Homo sapiens: one gene and its partner. The protein of the gene in region 2 interacts with the protein of the main gene of each other region in a pairwise test. Each region holds a gene or a part of one and is shown on either strand. Other genes may lie near its edges.

Region 1 (3,731 bases), on a different chromosome or scaffold from region 2:
ATTGGCTGAGCATGGCATCGTGCACCTGTAGTCCCAGCTACTCGGGGCGGGGGGCCGAGGTGGGAAGATAGCTTGAGCCCAGCTTGAGCCCAGGAGGCAGAGGTTGCAATGAGCTGAGATTATGACACTGTACTCCAGCCTGGGTGACACAGTGGGACCCTGTCCCACAAAAAAGAAAAAAAAAAGAAAAAATATGAATATTAGTACTATTTGGTGTTTGTTCGCCTTTGTTCTCAGTGAGGCTTCAGCAGTATCACCTAACACTGTAGGTGTAAATATCAACACATTAGAAAAGGCAGAAAGTCTTTCAAAGTACCACTATTAAAAGCAGAGGCAGAAAGAGAGATGAGATACAGAGCACATATGTATTCACAAAATTTAAGTAAGTAAACATCCACTAAGTGCAAGATACTGTGTACTGGCTTAGTAAATATGACTAAGACATGTATTATATGTCTTGTTATTATATATCATTATACTAGTATTATAATAAAAATATTTTTGACCTTGTGGGCCTCCTCAGAGGTCTCAAGGACTTCCAGTGATCTGTTGACCACACTTAGGTAAGTGGTAACCTTGATTATAGTCCTAAGGTTTCAACAGCTAGGCCTTCCAGAGCTACAGACATATTTTAGCATATGGATTTTGGCATATACTTTCCTATTAAACTATTCTTTAAGAAAAGTACTTCTAAAGTAATAATGAGGTATCTAAGAACATGATATTAAAATATAAAGAAAAAACCCAAATTAGAGTAAAATCTTAAGGCAGTGTACTCTTGCTACAGTTGGGTATCTCAATATTCTTCACTTGTTTTCAGCTATTTAATCTACTACTGTTTTTCCAAATCAGCTTGAGAACATTTCTTTCAACTACTCTGAATCTTTATGCCCCTGCTCAAAATCGTCTGAAGAGTCTTAAGTGCAGGCTTCTAGGATCAAAAGTTCTTGTGCAATACTTTCTCCCATCCTAAAGGTAATTCTACTGGCAAGAAACCTTTATATCTGGCAGCTTAAAATTAAGAAGAGAAAAACAGGCTGTTTGCTCTTCCAATTTCCCAACTCTTAAAAATTCAGGCTCCTCTCTCATTATATAGCCATGCAGAAACAGAATGTTAGGAAGCAGAATGGTCTACCTACTCTCTATAAAACCCTCATAGTCATTAGTACAAAGGAATGAATTTCCTTTCTATCCACATGACCAGCTTGTTACAGATTAACATCCCCACACTACTCTGGCCAGATCTTCCCTTTCTGATTAATAGCTGTAAATGTGCTTATATGTCATCACACTTGGAGTTATATATGAAAAATACACAATCCAGTGTCCTAATAACACAATCTGATGACAGAAGCCTGTTTATTAAAGGAGCCATGCCCTTTTCTCCTTTTCTAAACATTTCTCAACAAAATCTGTGCTGCTTTTGTGCTTCCTCTCTCTCCACGAGTACAGTACCAAAAAGAGCTATAATAATGCAAATCTTCTGACTTACGTTGACCCCACTGTCCACTACTGGGATTCAGATAGTTAGGATAAAGGCCTTGTGGTTTTTCCAGTTTGTTCAGTACTGTTCGAATATTCATTACCTATAATAGAAAATAAAATGTTACCGTGAAAATCTAAAAAACAATTTTCATGCCATTCTTCTTCTTCTTGAACATACAAGTTGACTTAAATGATGCAGAGTTAGAACAAAGATAACTGCTGTTAGCTTATTATTACAAACATAATGGCAGTAAGTGAATATAGTCACACTGATTAGTTATCTACCATTAGCCAGATGCCATACTAGGAACAAGGGGCCAGTGGATAAACAAAGTCACCACACTCTTAGAATTGTGCATCCTAGTGGGACGGGACAGACAATAAATCAATAAGTCTAGTCATGTGTCCCTTAATGACAGGGATACATGCTGGGAAACACAGGCAATTTAATTCTTGTACAAACATCATAGAGCACACTGTCACAAATGTAGTTGGCACAGCCTACTGTTTCTAGGTTACAAACCTGTGTAGCATATGTTACTGTACTGAAGTATTTGTGTATCTAAACACAGAAAAATACACTATAAAAGATGAAAAATGATACCTTTCTATAGGGTTATACATTTTATAACCCTATACATAAATACAGGGCACTTTGTATAGGGCATTTATCATGAATGAAACTCGCAGGACTGGAAGTTGCAGTGGATGAGTTAGTAAGTGAGTAATAAGTGAATGTGAAGGCCTGGGACGTTACTGTATAGTACTGTAAACTTTATAAACATGGTACACTTAGCCATTATTAATACATTTATAAAAGTATTTTTCTTTCAATAATAAATTAACGTTAGTTTACTGTAATTTTACTTTATAAACTTTTTAATTAAAAAAATTTTGACTCTTTTGTAATAACCATTAGCTTAAAACACACTTTGTATAGTTGTACCAAAATATTTTCTTTCTTTATATTCTTATAAGTTTTTTCTATTTAAAATTTCTTTTTAAAGTTGTTTAACTTTTTAAACTTTTTGTTAAAAACTAAGACACATATACACATTAGCTTAGGACTCCACAGGACCATCAATATCACTGTCTTCCACTTCTACATCTTATCGCACTGGAAGGTCTTTCAGGGGCAGTAGCACGCATGGAGCTGTCAACTCCTGTGATGATAATGCCTTGAAGAGGAATACCTCTTGAAGGACCTTGCTTCTAGAGCTAACTTAAAAAAAAAGTGGTACATTCTAAAATAACAATAAAAACCATAGTAGTACATAAATCAGTAATGCAGTCATTTAATTATCAAATATTATGTACTGTACATAATTATATGTGCTATACTTTTATGTGACTGGGAGTAGAGTATGTTTATGCCATCACCACCACAAACATGTAAGTAACGCATTGCACTACGACATTATGACAACTATGATGTCACAAGGCCGTAGGAATTTTGTCAACTCCATTATAAACTTACAGGACCACTGTCACATATGTGGTCCACTGTTGAATAAACACTGTTAAGTAACACCTAACTGTATAGTATGTCAGGAGATGATAAATACTGTGGAAAAAAATAAAAGGGTGCTATGGATTGAACTGCATACCCCTAATTTCATATGCTGAAACCCTACTTCCCAGTGTGATTGTATTTGGAGATTTATTTGGAGATGGTAATTAGGTTATGACGGTAGAGCCTTAAATGGGATTAGTGCCCTCATGAGAGACACAAGAGCTCTCTCTCTCTCTCTGTGACTCCTTCTCTCCCTCAGAGCACAAAGAAGACATCATGTGAACACACACTGGGACAGTTCTCGTCATCTACAAGCCCAGGGAAGAGGCTCAGAATAAAACCTACCTCATGGGCAGTTTGATCTTGGATTTCCCAGCCTCCAGAACTGTAAGAAATAAATTTCGGTTGTTTCTGGCTGCATTTTTGTTATGGTAACCCGAGCTGATTGAGAGTTAACGGGACAGGGTGATGTGGAGAGGCTATCCCATGTTAGTCAGAGTGGCCTGGCAAGGCGGAGGTGTTTGAGCAGAATATTAAAGAAGTGAGGGAGTAGGCCACGTGGAAATGTGGAGGAAGAGCACTCGGAACAGAGAGAGGAGCAAGTACAAAGGCCCTGAGGAGACAGCAGGTTTGCAATGCTACTGAGGCCAGAGGTGAGGAGACAAAGGGGAGAATGTCAGCAGGTAGAGGAGAGGAGAGCCAGGGCCCAGGTCACCCAGGCCCCACAGGCCAC
Region 2 (3,917 bases):
ATATTTTATGTATAGTTTTTTTTCCCCCACTAAGTAGACCATGGCCATTTGTCCATATCCACACATCATCTTTTTTTAAAGTGAAAGGCCACTCTTAAAATGCTAACGCCCCCAAGCAAGGCAGAATCTTACATGTTCATGAGCCAACATGTGCCTAAGTGGACAGGTTCTGGGGAGGGAAAGGAGAACACAAGGTTGTGTTTTACCAGTGTCACAACTGTCCTCACGGTCAGTCTGTCCAAGAACAGCCTGGGAGGCCGGGTGTGGCGGCTCATGCCTGTAATCCCAACACTTTGGGAAGCCGAGGCAGGAGGACTGCTTGAGCCCAGGAGTTTGAGACCAGCCTGGGCAACAAGGAGAGACCCCATCTCTACAAAAACAAAAATTAGCCAGGCGTGGTGGCGCACTCCTGTAGTCCCAGCTACTTGGGAGACTGAGGTGGGAGGATCACTTGAGCCCAGGAGTTCGAGGCTCCAGGGAGCTATGATTGTGCCACTGCACCCTACCCTGGGCAACAGAGACCAACACTGTCTCAGGAAAAAACAAAAACAAAGCGGGAGGCCGGGCGCAGTAGCTCACGCCTGTAATACTAGCACTTTGGGAGGCTGCAGTAGGCGAATCATTTGAGGTCAGGAGTTGACCAGCCTGACCAACATGGCAAAACCCGGTCTCTACCAAAAACACAAAAATTAGCCGGGTGTGGTGGCACATGCCTGTAATCCCAGCTACTCGGGAGGCTAAGGCACGAAAATCGCTTGAACCTGGGAGGCAGTGGTTGCAGTGGCAGAGATCACATCATTGCACTCCGGTTTTTGAGACCCTGTCTCAAATAAATAAATAAATAAATAAATAAATAAATAAATAAAGCAGGGCTCACTCAGGGAAACTAATTTTCACATTACAGCAGGCAGGCCACAGCGCAACGCCCTGCTGATCCAGTGACTACAAAGTCCATCCCGCTGTAATCCTGGCCTGTATGAGCCCTCCCTCTGACCCCCTTCCCAGTGCCAATCTGACAAAGAAAGGTCATGGCAGGACCTGGGGGAAGAGAACAACAGAGCCACTGCCAGGCCCCATGGCCAGTTTGGCCCCAGTGGACATCTCATTGGAACCTTCTCTGTTTGCAGCGCCCAGCGGGTCTCAGCCCTCCCTGCCAGCCAAGCACACAGGGGGCCCTCTTGTCCACTCAGGCTGGGCAGCTCTCAAAGCACTCTCTCACACAGCATCCCTTACCATCCTCCAGGCTACCCAGGGATGTAGGCAAGAATTGCAGCCCCCAGATTCAAAGACAAAGAGACTGAGGCTTCCATGTGCCAAGTATCCCTAGAAGTCAGCAGACCTCTGATTTCAGCCTGTATCACCTGATGTCAAGACAGCTGTCTTCCCTCCACCTGCCCTTCCCCACGGCTTTGGGTTTTGGTTATTTCACAGCAAAAACTGAGACACAATCCCATTTTAAAGAAGAAGAAATTGAGGCACAGAAATTACATAATCTGCCAGAGGTCCCACAGCTATGAAGAGGGAGCTGGGATTCAATGCCAGGCGGTCTGGCTCCAGAGGCCAAGCTTTGCCGGCTGTCCTATAGCTAAGTCACTCTACAAGTTTCAAATGTTTCTCCACTCACCTACTTCCCCAAAGGGAAATAAGCAGTATGGGGGGACCACTGAAGCCCAAGGCCTTCAGTACCACCATTCTGATGGCCAAACTTCAAGTCAGAGCTATGGGGGCAGTGCAGCAGCCCTGGCTCAGGCTACCCTGAAGAGACGCAAAGACCACACATGTGTTTTTTCTTTATAATCAACCAATCACCAAAGGTCCTGTTAACACTCCACCTCTCCCCACCCCAACCTTCCTCAACCTGCAGACAATGTCTGTACCGTCAGCTCTCTTCCTCCTCCACTTTAAGGCTGATGTTATCTCTTCAGACTATCTGGGGTCTGCAGGCCTCAACTCTGATGCCCCCTATTTCAACAAAGCTTTGGCCTCTCAAAGGGCCCTGAGTGACTCTCCTAGAATCCCCCTCACCCCACTACAATTGCTTGCTTGAATCCAGGAGACGGCAAGCTCCATGAGGCAGGGACGTGCCTGATTATTTGTTGACCACCCTGGTCCCCAGTGCCCCACACAGGATTTGCTGCAGGAAGGCCTCCAGGCCAATGTTTACTTCAACCAGATCTCACCTGTGTACAAGAAGGTCAGGGGTGTAGGGGCTCTGCCAGCTTAGACCGGGCAGCCTGCCACCAGGCCTGGAATCTGGTGCAGCTTCAAGAAACAGTTACTCCTCCCTCCCCCGGTCTATCTATGCTTCAAACATTCCCTAGCAGTTTCTTCGAAGCACAACTGAGTCTTACAGGACCTAGTCCCTAGTGCATTCCACCCACACGTTTTAATGGAGAAAGTGCTGGGACGTATCACTGTCCTTTGATAGAGGAATTTTTCTCCTGATTTGTGCTAATAATTCATGAGGGAGGGGCCGGGCAGCTTCCAGTTTACTCTCACCTCCAAGTTTCTAAGCTCAAAACAGAGTTTTTGTTTGTACCATTGCTCCTTGGGTCCAAAAAAAAAAAAAAAAAGTTTTAAGAGAAAACATTTGCTGGTTTTCAGAGGGAGGAAAGGCAGAGATAATGAGTGCTGGCTTAAGCATGTTTGAGGAACACAGATACTCAGAAACAAAGATTTTTCAAACCACCCTGCAAGTATAAGCAGAAACTATTCCCACCTGACCTGAGCAATGAGGAAAAGGACGGACCCCTTCACAGCCCTGGAACAGCCCACTTTCAGAGCAAGCACGGGAAATGATGAAAACATTACAAATTGTGCTTAAAACCACATAAACATGGGCATAAAATATTACAAATCTTTATTCTGATTAGACTTAGAAATTCTCAGTGTGGCTTCTGTTTTAACAAACATTTGAAAAGAGACAGACCTATAAAATAGGCATTTAAAAATTACATCAGCATATTGAGTTTTACTATCTCACCTAGCAGGGCTGTCGCACACCTGAATGACCCATTTATCTCTGACTCACTGCCTCCTCTTCCATCCATTACTCGCCCATGCCTGGCACAAGGCCCCCTTGCTGGCCCTCAGCTAAGCCAGGCTTAGCCCTGATGCGCCCTCCAGCTGGAATGTTCTTCCCCCACATGGCCTGAGGCTTGCTCACTCTCTCCAGACAATACTGCATTCCTCTCCCTCCCCTTGCCTCCAAACACCCACCAGCTGAGTCCCCTTCCAGCTCTTTGCCTCCTTTGTATACATCAGATAACCTACCATGTGTATTTTAACTTTTTATTGCGTTTTCCACCCCCTCTGCAATGTAAGCCTCAGAAAAGCAGGGACTTCTGTCCATTCTCTTCACTGCTCTGTCCCCATCACCGAAAATTGCCCCCATCACGTAGTAGGTGCTCAATAAATACTTAGTGAATTAAAAAGCTGGTCAGGCGCAGTGGCTCACACCTGTAATCCCAGCATTTTGTGAGGCCAAGGGAGGCAGATCGCTCTCAGCTCCAGAGTTTGAAACCGGCCTGGCCAACATTGCAAAACCCATCTTTCCTAAAAATACAAAAATTAGCCAGCGTGGTGGTGTGAGCCTTTGGTCCTGGCTACTTGGGAGGCTGAAGCTGGAGAATCGCTTGAACCCGGGAGGCTGAGGCTGCAGTGAGCCGAGATTGTGACACTGCACTCCAGCCTGAGTGACAGAGCAAGACCCTGTCTCAATAAATAAATAAAGCTGACTGATCAATGGATCTGTGGGAAAATGCTTATTTTCCTAACTTAAAACATCAGGCTTATATCCAAGGGCTCTCTGGTTAAAAGGTTCCTCCTTTTACAGCTTGAAAAGGTTGGCTTTTGCTGATATAAATCAGCATGCAAAGGGGACCCAGCACTGTTCAAATAAGGTCAGAGGCAAACCC

Evidence for each region. Proteins that work in one complex are often made in the same cells at the same time.
Region 1: the proteins of SH3BP5 (region 2) and MAN1A1 interact in a two-hybrid assay, tested with the Homo sapiens proteins (one large-scale study listed by IntAct).

Annotation. Positions count from the first base shown.
Region 1 is NC_000006.12:119,199,762-119,203,492, forward strand, and holds part of MAN1A1 (mannosyl-oligosaccharide 1,2-alpha-mannosidase IA), read right to left. Parts: intron 1,587-3,731; coding exon 1,493-1,586; intron 1-1,492. UniProt on the Homo sapiens protein: Involved in the maturation of Asn-linked oligosaccharides. Progressively trim alpha-1,2-linked mannose residues from Man(9)GlcNAc(2) to produce Man(5)GlcNAc(2).
Region 2 is NC_000003.12:15,322,301-15,326,217, forward strand, and holds part of SH3BP5 (SH3 domain-binding protein 5), read right to left. Parts: intron 1-3,917. UniProt on the Homo sapiens protein: Functions as a guanine nucleotide exchange factor (GEF) with specificity for RAB11A and RAB25. Inhibits the auto- and transphosphorylation activity of BTK. Plays a negative regulatory role in BTK-related cytoplasmic signaling in B-cells.